Homo sapiens: one gene and its partners. The protein of the gene in region 1 interacts with the protein of each later gene in a pairwise test. Each region holds a gene or a part of one and is shown in the gene's direction. Other genes may lie near its edges. The genes, in order: UBXN11, SH2D4A and PRKAA1.

Region 1 (3,651 bases):
GCAGGACCCTGGGCGTGGGCATCGCCATGATGGGCAGGGCCTAGCAGAGCACGGGTGCTCAGACATTTCTGGAAAGCAGGATCCAACCCTGCTTTTAGTGGCCCAGCCACTCTGGGCCAGGCCCAGGGCTCAATGCTCCTGAGCTCAAGGGGTGCCCAGCATGGCTGGAAGGCAAACAAGCAAGCAGAAAGCAGCGGCCTGTGACGAGGGCCAAGGGAGTAGGTGCAAGGGCTCCAGGCATGCAGCCTCAAGGCAGGTTGGGGGTGGCTCCTAGCAAGGCTTCTTGGAGGAGGTAGGGGTGAGTGGGCACAGCTTGAGCCCAGCGATGAGTAGGCGGTGCTAGGGACAACAACAGCCACCATCTGCCAAACGCTTCCTCCAAGCCTCACAGCAGCCCTGTGAAGTGTGGAAACTTTTATCGTCCTCATTGTACAGAAGAGGAAGCTGAGGCCCATAGAGGCCCAGGGTTACAGAGCTCGGAAGTGCCCTCCAGTGCCCACCAGAGCGCAAGGCGAGGGGCATGTTGAGGGTTGGCTGGGTGCTAAGTAAGGGTCTTGGGAGTTGGGACAAAGAGCTTGGACTTGAGCTCCCTTCTCATTTTAATACACTCGTGGGCTCTCAAAGTTGGATGAGGCCTCAGAGGTGATCTCCCAGCATTGCCACTCTCCCTGGAAAAGGGACCCCAGTAAGCAGCCTCTCAAGAACCAATATTGAGAGGCAGCCTATGTGATCACTGAGCACTGAGGCTGAGTCACTTGGGCCCTGCAAGCTGCATGATCTGGGGCGTGACAGCTCATAAGGCCCAATTTCCTTATCTGTAAAACAGAAATGGTGATGCCTGCCTCCTGGCGCTTGGCACAGGGCTGTCATTTACAGACAGGTTCACCAGCTGGATCTTGCAGGCAGTACAGGGTTCTTACCATCTCCCCATTGCACAGAAAGGATGGCTGTGGCTCAAAGAGGAAGTGCCTTTCCATTTGAGTTCTGCTGCTAGCTCAGGGCAGACCTAGGACTTGCCCTCTGACCTTACTCCTGCTGTGTGACTCCCCAGCTGCACCTCTCTCCATCCACGGGTCAGGCCTCAGTTGAACCCTGGTGGGGTGGTGGGGGCTCACTGGCTTCACAAGGCCCTGCTGTGGTAGCTCTTCCCACCTCATTCTCTCAGTGCTGGTTTGCCCAGAGCTGTGGTTCCTTCTTCCTGGCCCCTGGTCTCATCTCCACTCTATCATATCCAGCATCTGCCTGGGCCACCTGCTTTTACTTCTTTAAGCCAGGGCCATTTTCTTGGCAAGCTTCTCTCTTCCCCTTCGTCGTTTCTTGGCATCCTCCCTGGTCTCACCCCATCCCATGTCAACCACCCATGTTCATCAGCCTGAAAAACCCCCGGCCCTGGGAGGCGGCAGGAGCATTGAATTAGGAGTTGGTGTATTTGGTGCTCTTCCTGGCTCTGTCTGGTCTGATCAGGCCATGTCATCTGACCTTTCTGGGCCTCACTTTCCCCATCTATAAAGAAGACAGAGCCCTGGTAACACAGCGAGACCCCATCTCTACAATTTTTTTTTAAATTAATTAGCAGGGTGTGGTGATGCCTGCCTGTGGTCCAAGCTACTTGGGAGGCTGAGGTGGGAGGATAAGTTGAACCCGGGAGGTCACGGTTGCAGTATCATGACTGTGCCGCTATACTCCAGCTTGGGTGACAGAGGGAGACCCTTTCTCGGAAAAAAAAAAAAAAGGGTTGAGGCAGGCATTGTATGAGATGATCTATTCTGCTATTGTTTTTAGGTTTGCCTATTTGTCCTTAAGGTAGTTGTTAAAAGAAAAGTGTCTTGGTATCATTCTGTTAGGCGAGTTTTTCCTGGGAATCTCAGGGACTATGTGGGGAGCCCCCGGAGGGGCTGGGGGCAGGTATAGCCCCTTCAATGGTAGGAAATATAGGGGAGAGGAGAAGGCCAGCTGGGGCCTACCATTTCACCTGCTGCAAAAGCAACAGGAAACACATCTGCACCTCCCTGGTACAGCCACTGCACCACTGAGAGGAAAGGAATTAGGTCCCCAGAGCCCTGACCCACATCCTGCCGCAGCCTGCTTGTCCTGTTGAAAAACAGCCTCTCTGAGGCCCCAAAAGTTATTGGTGTGTTGTAGGGCACACCCAAACAGATGACTTACTTGGGGGCCAGGTCCCATCAAAGATGACAGAACAGGCCCCTGGTCTGTACCCAGCCAGCATCTACCTGCCCTCCACCTTTCTGCTCTGTTGTCTGTCACGGCTGTCCCCACCGCTCCGTATTCTCCCCTGAAGCCAGAACACAGCTGTATGCGCCACACGTGTTTCAGAAGAGGAGGCCAGAGCTTTGTCAGCTTCTCAAAGGGGTCTGTGACCCAGAAATAGTTGCACAACCTAAGGTCTGTCCCATATCTGTTCTGGCCAGCAGCTGTCCCTACATCCTCCCTGAGAGCCATCTGTCCCTCTTCTGACCTCCCTCTCCTGATGGTGCAGATGGGTGGGGGAAACAGACTTGAGAGTCAGCCCCGGCTCCCTTCCCAGTTCCTCCTCTCACCAAGTGGCTTGGGACGAGTCATTTTTCATCTCTGTGGGCCTGTTTCCTCATGTGTAAAATGGAACTAAATAACCCCTGCCTCAGCCTGGCGTGGTGGCTCACACCTGTAATCCCAGCACTTTGGGATGCCAAGGCGGGCGGATCACCTGAGGTCAGGAGTTCGAGACCAGCCTGACCAATATGATGAAACCCCATCTCTACTAAAAATACAAAAATTAGCCGGGTGTGGTGGCTCATGCCTGTAATCCCAGCTACTCAGGAGGCTGAGATAGGAGAATCGCTTGAACCCAGGAGGCAAGGTTGCGGTGATCCAAGATTGTACCATTGCACTCCAGCCTGGACAACAAGAGTGAAACTCCATCTCAAATAAATAAAAATAATTACCCCTGCCTTAAGCCTCAGGGTTGGCGTAAGGACCATGTGTGCAAGGTGGAGTTGGGCACAGTAGCAAACATGGACAGGGTGCGTGTTCCAAGCTGGCTCTTAACATGGTTACTTCTTGGAGCCTTACAGCCATCCTAGGAGGCAGATACTACTGTCATCCATTCTAGAAGAGAATGCTGCAGCACAAGCATTAAATGACCTAAGGTCACACAGATAGAAGGGAGGAACTGGGATTTGAACCCAGAAGGCCTCGATCCAGAGCTGGGAGCTCTGCCCTGTACTTTTCAGCTGCCAACCCAGTGCCTGACACAGATCTGGGATCAGATCCTGCTTCTGCTGCTTACTACTGTGTTTCTCACAAGCCATGTAACTTTCTCTAACCCTCAGTTTCCTCATCTGAAAAAATGGAGGTGATTATAGCCTTTATAGATAGGCTTGATAAGAAGTGGGAATGGAATATGGATAGTAAACCCCTAGCACAAAATAAGTGCTCAATAAAAGACAGCTGCTGTTATTATCTAGCGTTGTCCTTTTCCCCAGGCAGTCAGTTAAGGAGACATTAAGACCACTGCCCAGCTTGGGAGGGAGCCACAGAGGCTAGGGCTGCTAGGGACATGACAGCCAAAAGGCGGCTCACAGGTGTCTGTCCTCTTTGCCAGGGGACTCATTGGCGCCCCCTGAGGTGGACTTTGACAGGCTGCTGGCCAGC
Region 2 (3,651 bases), on another chromosome or scaffold:
GCACCATCAGTTCAGCGTTTCTGTTGCTGCAGGAATTTGCTGGCTTCCATTCTGAAATTTCATACATGGCACCACATCCTGCTGTTCTGATTCTGGGCACACAAATAAACTCACAAAAAGGCCTCTGTGTTGTGTATTACAGTGAAGCTGAGTTAGAGCTGGACTGCCCGGCTCTGCCGCTTACCAGCTGCTGACCTGTGCTCTATCTTCCTAATCTGTGAGATGGGCATAGTGATGGGCTGGACTCCAAGGGTTATTGTGAAGATTAAGTGAGTTAACACATGTAGAGTGCTTAATTAAGATGGTGCCTGGTACAAGAAGTGTTAGCTGTGTTATCAGGAATATGCAGGGCGGGGGAGACTGGAGGAATATGACTTTGACACTTTAAGGGTTTTAGATTCTAGGATCTACCCATGCCTTGAATAGGATTCGCTGCATTCAAAATGGGGAACACAGCAGAAGTCTCAACCCCAGCTGAACTGTTCATCTTCTGCCGTGTGTGATTTCTGCGAAAACCAACCATTGAACTTAAGGACATTTACTGGAATGTCAAGGAGTCATTCTGTCTCCTTTCTTACCACTTTATCTTGGAGCTTGTGGATTTCATTGGCTCCACCCTTTGAGAAGCTGCTAGAAACAAAAAGTCAAAAGTCAAGAAATCTTGACAAGACATCCATTTTTTTTTTTTTTTTTTTTTTTGGCTGTTCAAGCCTTTAAGGGTATCTCAATGCAAAATACAAAGTTGGCAAGTGGATCTGGGAAGGGCGTGATATTACTTTTAGTCCTTTAAAATTTTTCTCTTAATGTTTGGTTCCATTTGGATTCTGGTAGTTGAATGCTGCCGAGATGATAGGTTGCAGTCAGTAGGGATAGGTGTAGTTTCATCAAGGGCCTGGCTTCACAATGAACAGTCAGCGAATCTAAGAGCTGAGTATGCACACCACTCTGTGGTAGCCTAGCTGTTGAGCGTGCTTGTCTCAAAAGACAGGTGTAAATCAAGGAACTACTTTGCACGGAAGAGGAGGAAGACGGGAAGCTGAAGGAGGCCCCCAGATGGTGAGAGGGGCATTACAAATCTAACTGTATCAATGACAAGGTGAACGAAGAGAAACCAACAACACTACGATGGTCATAATATAGCTAAGTGACTTGTCTGAAGTTTAAGACTGTTTGAACATAGTATGGAGAAACAACGTATTTGAGAGCACATGGCAAGGTGGTAAGATTATTGAGGTGTTATTATAAATAACAAATTATTGGTCAATTTCTTTTTTTTTTCTTTTTTTATTTTTGAGACAGAGTCTCCCTCTGTTGCCCAGGCTGGAGTGTAGTGGCGCGATCTCGGCTCACTGCAACCTCTGCGTCCTAGGTTCAAGCGATCTCCTGTCTCAGCCTCTTGAGTAGCTGGGATTACAGGCACCCACCACCATGCCCAGCTAATTTCTGTATTTTTTGTTTTTTTAGTAGAGATGTTGGTCATACTGGTCAGACTGGTCTCGAACTCCTGACCTCGTGATCCCCCCTCTTTGGCCTCCCAAAGTGCTGGGATTACAGGCGTGAGCCACCCCGCCTGGCCTATTGGTCAATTTCTTAGGACACATGTGATTCTGAAAAGTTGTAGTAAGTTTTTTTTCTTATATCTTATTACATCGAATCCAAAGTCTTTTGTTTTCCAGAATAGATATATTTACATAGTTTCCTGCTGATTACAAAAGTATGATGGTTTATGGGACTTAGAAATTGTTTAAAAATAGAGAGAGAAAGTATGACAGTGTGGTAATATTTTTAAGCCAATATTTTAAAATAGAAATGTGGAAAGTAGAATGAAACCTCAGTAGGATTTCCAACCACAGGAGAACTTCTAGGAGGCCACTGTGCACTCTCGCTTTATGGTTTCTCTTTCAAGGAGCCATGCGGTAAAGTCATATAAATGAAGGATCCTTTGTTATGAACCTAATGACCTCTTCATCCCCCTAGTTTATCTGGTCTGTCCATTTAGATTTTATTAAACTAGGTTATCTGGAAAAAGCACACCTAAAACTCGGTGACCTTCCAGAATGTAGATGGATGTTCTCTCTTGCACCTGCCCTGATTTTCATGGCTCTAGTAGGTTATCTGGAAATTACATTATCCTTTTGTGAAGAGGAAAGTACATAATTTTGTTTATTTAATGCTACTTTTTAGGGAAATTGCAGAAAATGCATGGTGGTCTAGTTTTTATTTCTTCCTTTTTCTTCCTTGAGCATGGCTCTATTTTGGTTTGGTTTGGGATGAGTTACTCTGTGACATATCAAAAGTGGTATTTTCTTTTGAAATAGGTACTTTGCAGAGAGCCTTTTAATTTCTTCCTGTGACTTTTTTTTTTCTTTCTTTTTTCAGCCACACAGTTGGTGGTTTGTTAGGCTCTGGGGTAATAATGTGTTTGCTTAGTTGGGAGCTGGACAAACCTCTGTGAACTTTTTTTGTTTGCCTGAGATTGACCTGTATAAAGTTAGGGTTTGTTTTCTTTTTTTTTTTGACAGAGTATCTTTAGAAATTACAGGATAGAGGTTATACAAACTCTTAACAAAGTGTGCCTCAGATTTTCTTCTTCTCTTTTCTCTCTGAACTGAAAAGTGATACTGTGTTTCCTCCTAGCTTTTTTTTTTAAACCCGTCCTAGCCAGTGTCCACACATTTTAACACGCTGCCTGAATGTGGGCTCTTTCTCTCTGCAGGTTCAGTGAACAGCATTTTGGACAGGACATTTGGTGCCAGGTCTGAGTAGCCAGTTTGCTGAATTATTGTCCCAGTCAGCCAGGATTGTGAGCTGTTTGGGAAGTTTCGTGGAAACGCCCAAGTGCCAGCACAGGTGGAGGGACACCTGGAGGCCAGTTTCAGGAACTTTTGCCACAAGTATAAAAGACTTCAGAAGTGCAAAGATGCTGAAACAGATACTGTCGGAGATGTACATAGATCCTGATCTACTGGCAGAGCTCAGCGAAGAACAGAAACAGATCCTGTTCTTCAAGATGAGAGAGGAACAGATCCGACGATGGAAAGAAAGAGAAGCAGCTATGGAAAGAAAGGAGTCCCTGCCAGTGAAACCCAGACCAAAGAAAGGTAAACTTATCCACGTTTCTTCTGTGGATGTGTTGGTAGAACAGCTCCTGGCTTGCTTTGACAATTTCACACTAGTCACAAGCAAAGCAGGTGCAAGTTCCAGTTTGGCAGATGAATCCTAAATGTTATTGAGAATCTAATAGTGCAGTATGTCCACCTGAAGTCTACACACACACACACAGCATTCACCATGGAGTTGCATAGCTATGAGGAAATCTTTTACTTGAAACCAGACTAACCTGAAGCTGTATTAAAAAGTCACCTATGAGGTTTGATTTGAGGGGTATTAAGAAAGGTTTCTATCTCCTTTATTGTTACTGGTTCCTAATATGCTACTACTAGAACACAAAGTTCTTGTGTCAGTATATTTATAGCAATTGTGTTTGCATTTCTTAGACCTCAGAGATTTTTCTTTGAGGTATCTTTTTAGGGAACACCTCCTGTTAAAATGTAAGGAATTGCTATAAGGAAAAAAATCATAATACTATCTTTTTTTAGTGTGAATGAGTTTCTCAGATGTAAACTTTTCCTCGTTATCAAAGGAATCTCT
Region 3 (3,651 bases), on another chromosome or scaffold:
TCTCGAACTCCTGATCTCAGGTGATCTGCCCGCCTCGGCCTCCCAAAGTGCTGGGATTACAGGCATGAGCCACCGCTCCCGGCCATTAATTTTTGTATTTTTTAGTAGAGATGGGGTTTTGCCATGTTGGCCAGATTGGTTTCGAACTCCTGACCTCAAGTGATCTACTCGCCTCGGCCTCCCAAAGTGCTGGGATTACAGGCATGAGCCACTGCACCGGGCCAGAATATGTGTAAATATATTATTAATCATACTTAGTACTAATTTATTAAATTACTTCTTTTACAGTTGGCAAACATGAATTGACTGGGCATAAAGTAGCTGTGAAGATACTCAATCGACAGAAGATTCGGAGCCTTGATGTGGTAGGAAAAATCCGCAGAGAAATTCAGAACCTCAAGCTTTTCAGGCATCCTCATATAATTAAACTGTAAGCTCTGTTTATATTAAATATAGTCCAGTCATCTTTTCATCTTTTTTGTTAACCTACTTAATGTGACAAGTGAGAAAAATGACTGACACTTCTTTTTGTTTCCTAAGGGTTTTGAAAAGTTTCTTCCTAGGCTGTGTGCGGTGGCTCACACCTGTAATTCCAGTACTTTGGGAGGCTGAGGCAGGCGGATCACCTGAGGTCAGGAGTTCGAGACCAGCCTGGCCAACATGGTGAAACCCTGTCTCCAGTAAAAATACAAAAATTAGCTGGGCATGGTGGTGGGCGCCTGTAATACCAGCTACTCGGGAGGCTAAGGCAGGAGAATGGCTTGAACCTGGGAGGCGGAGGTTGCAGTGAGCTGAGATCGTGCCATTGCACTCCAGCTTGGGCAACAAAAGCGAAACTCTGTCCCAAAAAAAAATAAAAGTTTCTTCCCATTCATGTATTTTTCTAACCCCATTGATGGTCATTTAAGCCTGTGTTCATGTTTTGCCCTTGTGCTTATCAGCTGTTATCTTCTCATTCTTTCCTGTCTCCTGGAAAGATGCTCTTCTGGTAATGTTTGGTGCCCCATTGCTGTAAAACCAACAGTGATCTGCTAGTAAAAACTCTTGACCTCCAAATGCCCACATGATGTCAGTTAGCCTCACTAGTGAGAATGCGGTAGTAGAAAGGGTTTTTCCCCATCCTGCTTATACCTGAACATATAGATAACAAAATTTCAGGAATCCAAGGTTTCAAAAGGGCAGTAATCTTACTGTTGTTTTACAGTTGCCAGTTATAGAGTCTACAAATAACTATTTCCTGCTCAGCTTCTGCTTTGTTATGCAGGCAATAACTTAAAGATGCTTAGGTTTTTCTCCTGAACTGGCTGACTCAAACTTGTTTCACTCTTACCTCTTCTCATTTGTTGAGTGCTAGGTTTTAAATACCATCCATATGCTGACCACCCCTAAATGTACATCTCTTGCTTTAAGATCTCTTCTTACACCAGACTTATTTGCTCACTGCTGACTTTACATTTCCATTTGGATGTTCGCAAGACATTTAAAACTCAACCCGGCCCAAAATGAACTCTTTATTACTCTCCCAAACCTGCTCTTCCCACAGTTTTCACCATCTTGGCTAACAGCCAATGACCCAGGGCTAAAACTTAGGAACCATTTTTAACTTCCCTGTTTCTTTCACTTTCTACCATGCATTTCATTTCTTCCTTCACAATCAAGCTAGGATTTGATTGCTTCTCAGTTCCTTTATTGCTGTCAACCTGGTCTCAGCCACCATCTGTCTCATGAAATCCTGAAGTAACCTCCTGTGGCTACCTTTACTGTTGACAGTTAATTCTTCACATTGCTGCCATAGTTTTACTTTTAATATGCCAGATCACATGACTGCTTAAAACGTACGATAGCTTTTCATCTTCCTTGGAGTAAAAGCCAAAGCCTTATCATGGCTTGTAAAATTCTGTGTCTTCTGGCCTGCAGTTAACACCTTTGACTCTACATCCTATTTCTCTCTAATATTCCTCGAACATGCCAAGCAGGCTTCTACTTGGGGACCTTTGCAGTTGCTATTCCCTCTCCCAGTTTCGCTTTCCTCCTAGATAATTACATAATTTGTTCCCATTCTTCTTTTAGGCTCAGCTCAAATGTTACTTTATTAGAGGCTTTCCTTTAGCACTCTGTATACAAAGATTCCCCTTCATTTGCTTTATTTTTCTTCATAGCATGTTCCACCACCTGAGATATTGCTTATTTATTTAGTGTCTGTTTCCTGGTTCCTGGAACATGAACTCCATGAGAGCAGAGAATTTTTGTTTCCTGCAGTTTTTCTAGCTCCTAGCCTAGTACCTGGTATACTATAGGTGCTTAGTAAATATTTATTGAATGAATGAATATATGTGTTTTAATATTTGTAGACAATGTTTTCTCTCACCAGGTACCAGGTCATCAGTACACCATCTGATATTTTCATGGTGATGGAATATGTCTCAGGAGGAGAGCTATTTGATTATATCTGTAAGAATGGAAGGGTAAGCTGTTCTGCTTTAATTCTGTATGTATTTTGTAACTCCCCTTTATCCTTTACTAGCATCAAAATGTCAGCAACCAATTTTAAGAGGTCTATTTAATAACCAGTTCCCTTAGTCATATATTTGTTTAGAATCATAAACTATGTAGAACTAGAAAGGATCTTAAAGATTATCTCCTTAGCCTGTTTATACAGATGTGGATACTGAGCCTCGCGGCTTATATGATTGCTCACAGTAACGTGATTTATTAATGACGGAATTGGCTTGAGCCCCCAGAACTCATAATCCTCAGACTTATGCTTCCAGGGTATACAAATACTTTGAATATGTATCTTAATGTAATTAATCGTTACAAAATATATTATTATTACTTAAAGATCTAGGCCTTGCTAGTCAATTCTAGCCACATTTAAATTGCATTCATTTTTTGGTTTCAGAAATCTGATGTACCTGGAGTAGTAAAAACAGGCTCCACGAAGGAGGTAGGAATTAGATATAAAGAATTTACAGCTGGAAGGAACTTTGTAGGACATTTTGAACACTACCTTAAGTTACAGATACAAAAACTCAACACTGCCCTCTGCCCATACTTTTTCTCATACCCAGGTTATGTGGTATGCAAAAGCCCCTTTGTGGGAGAGCTGTAGCTAGCCCTGAAAAGAGAGCTTTTCTCTCAATTTTAAGTTATTTACATTACTCATTCATTTGTTCTATATAGCATGTCTATTTACTTTTATCAAAATCAAACTTATTAACCAAGTTAATTTTGATTTTACTATTTCTTAACATGATTCATTTCTATTTCAGGTACTCCCCTTTACTCCTGCTTCTCCTTACCAAAAAAAAAAAAAAAAAAAAAATTCTGCCTGGAGAAATGGGAAACAGGCACAATTGATATATATTTTTCTTATCTTTTCTGTTGTTGTTTATTTCTTGGTTTTACCTTGTGGGTATTTCTTCAGTTTTACCAGTTGAATATTAAAATTTCAGCACCCGTATTTTCTATTTCAAAAGTTTCTTATTTTCTGAAATTTTCATTTTTTTAGTCTGCTGTTATTTGCCTCACAGATATAATAACCTAGTCTGAGGATGGCATTTTAAAAAAAGTCTTCCTCTGTTCCGTCTTGTTCTGTACCTTCTGTGCTCTCTGCATTCATTTTATTCATTTTTGTCTTTGATGCATGGC

The links.
Region 2: the proteins of UBXN11 (region 1) and SH2D4A interact in binary tests that used the Homo sapiens proteins (3 or more experiments, as listed by UniProt).
Region 3: the proteins of UBXN11 (region 1) and PRKAA1 interact in binary tests that used the Homo sapiens proteins (3 or more experiments, as listed by UniProt).

What each region holds. Positions count from the first base shown.
Region 1 is NC_000001.11:26,285,988-26,289,638, reverse strand, and holds part of UBXN11 (UBX domain-containing protein 11), read left to right. Parts: intron 1-3,601; coding exon 3,602-3,651. UniProt on the Homo sapiens protein: May be involved in the reorganization of actin cytoskeleton mediated by RND1, RND2 and RND3. Promotes RHOA activation mediated by GNA12 and GNA13.
Region 2 is NC_000008.11:19,316,628-19,320,278, forward strand, and holds part of SH2D4A (SH2 domain-containing protein 4A), read left to right. Parts: intron 1-2,716; 5' UTR 2,717-2,920; coding exon 2,921-3,101; intron 3,102-3,651. UniProt on the Homo sapiens protein: Inhibits estrogen-induced cell proliferation by competing with PLCG for binding to ESR1, blocking the effect of estrogen on PLCG and repressing estrogen-induced proliferation. May play a role in T-cell development and function.
Region 3 is NC_000005.10:40,774,224-40,777,874, reverse strand, and holds part of PRKAA1 (5'-AMP-activated protein kinase catalytic subunit alpha-1), read left to right. Parts: intron 1-288; coding exon 289-430; intron 431-2,371; coding exon 2,372-2,465; intron 2,466-2,902; coding exon of another isoform or gene 2,903-2,947; intron 2,948-3,651. UniProt on the Homo sapiens protein: Catalytic subunit of AMP-activated protein kinase (AMPK), an energy sensor protein kinase that plays a key role in regulating cellular energy metabolism.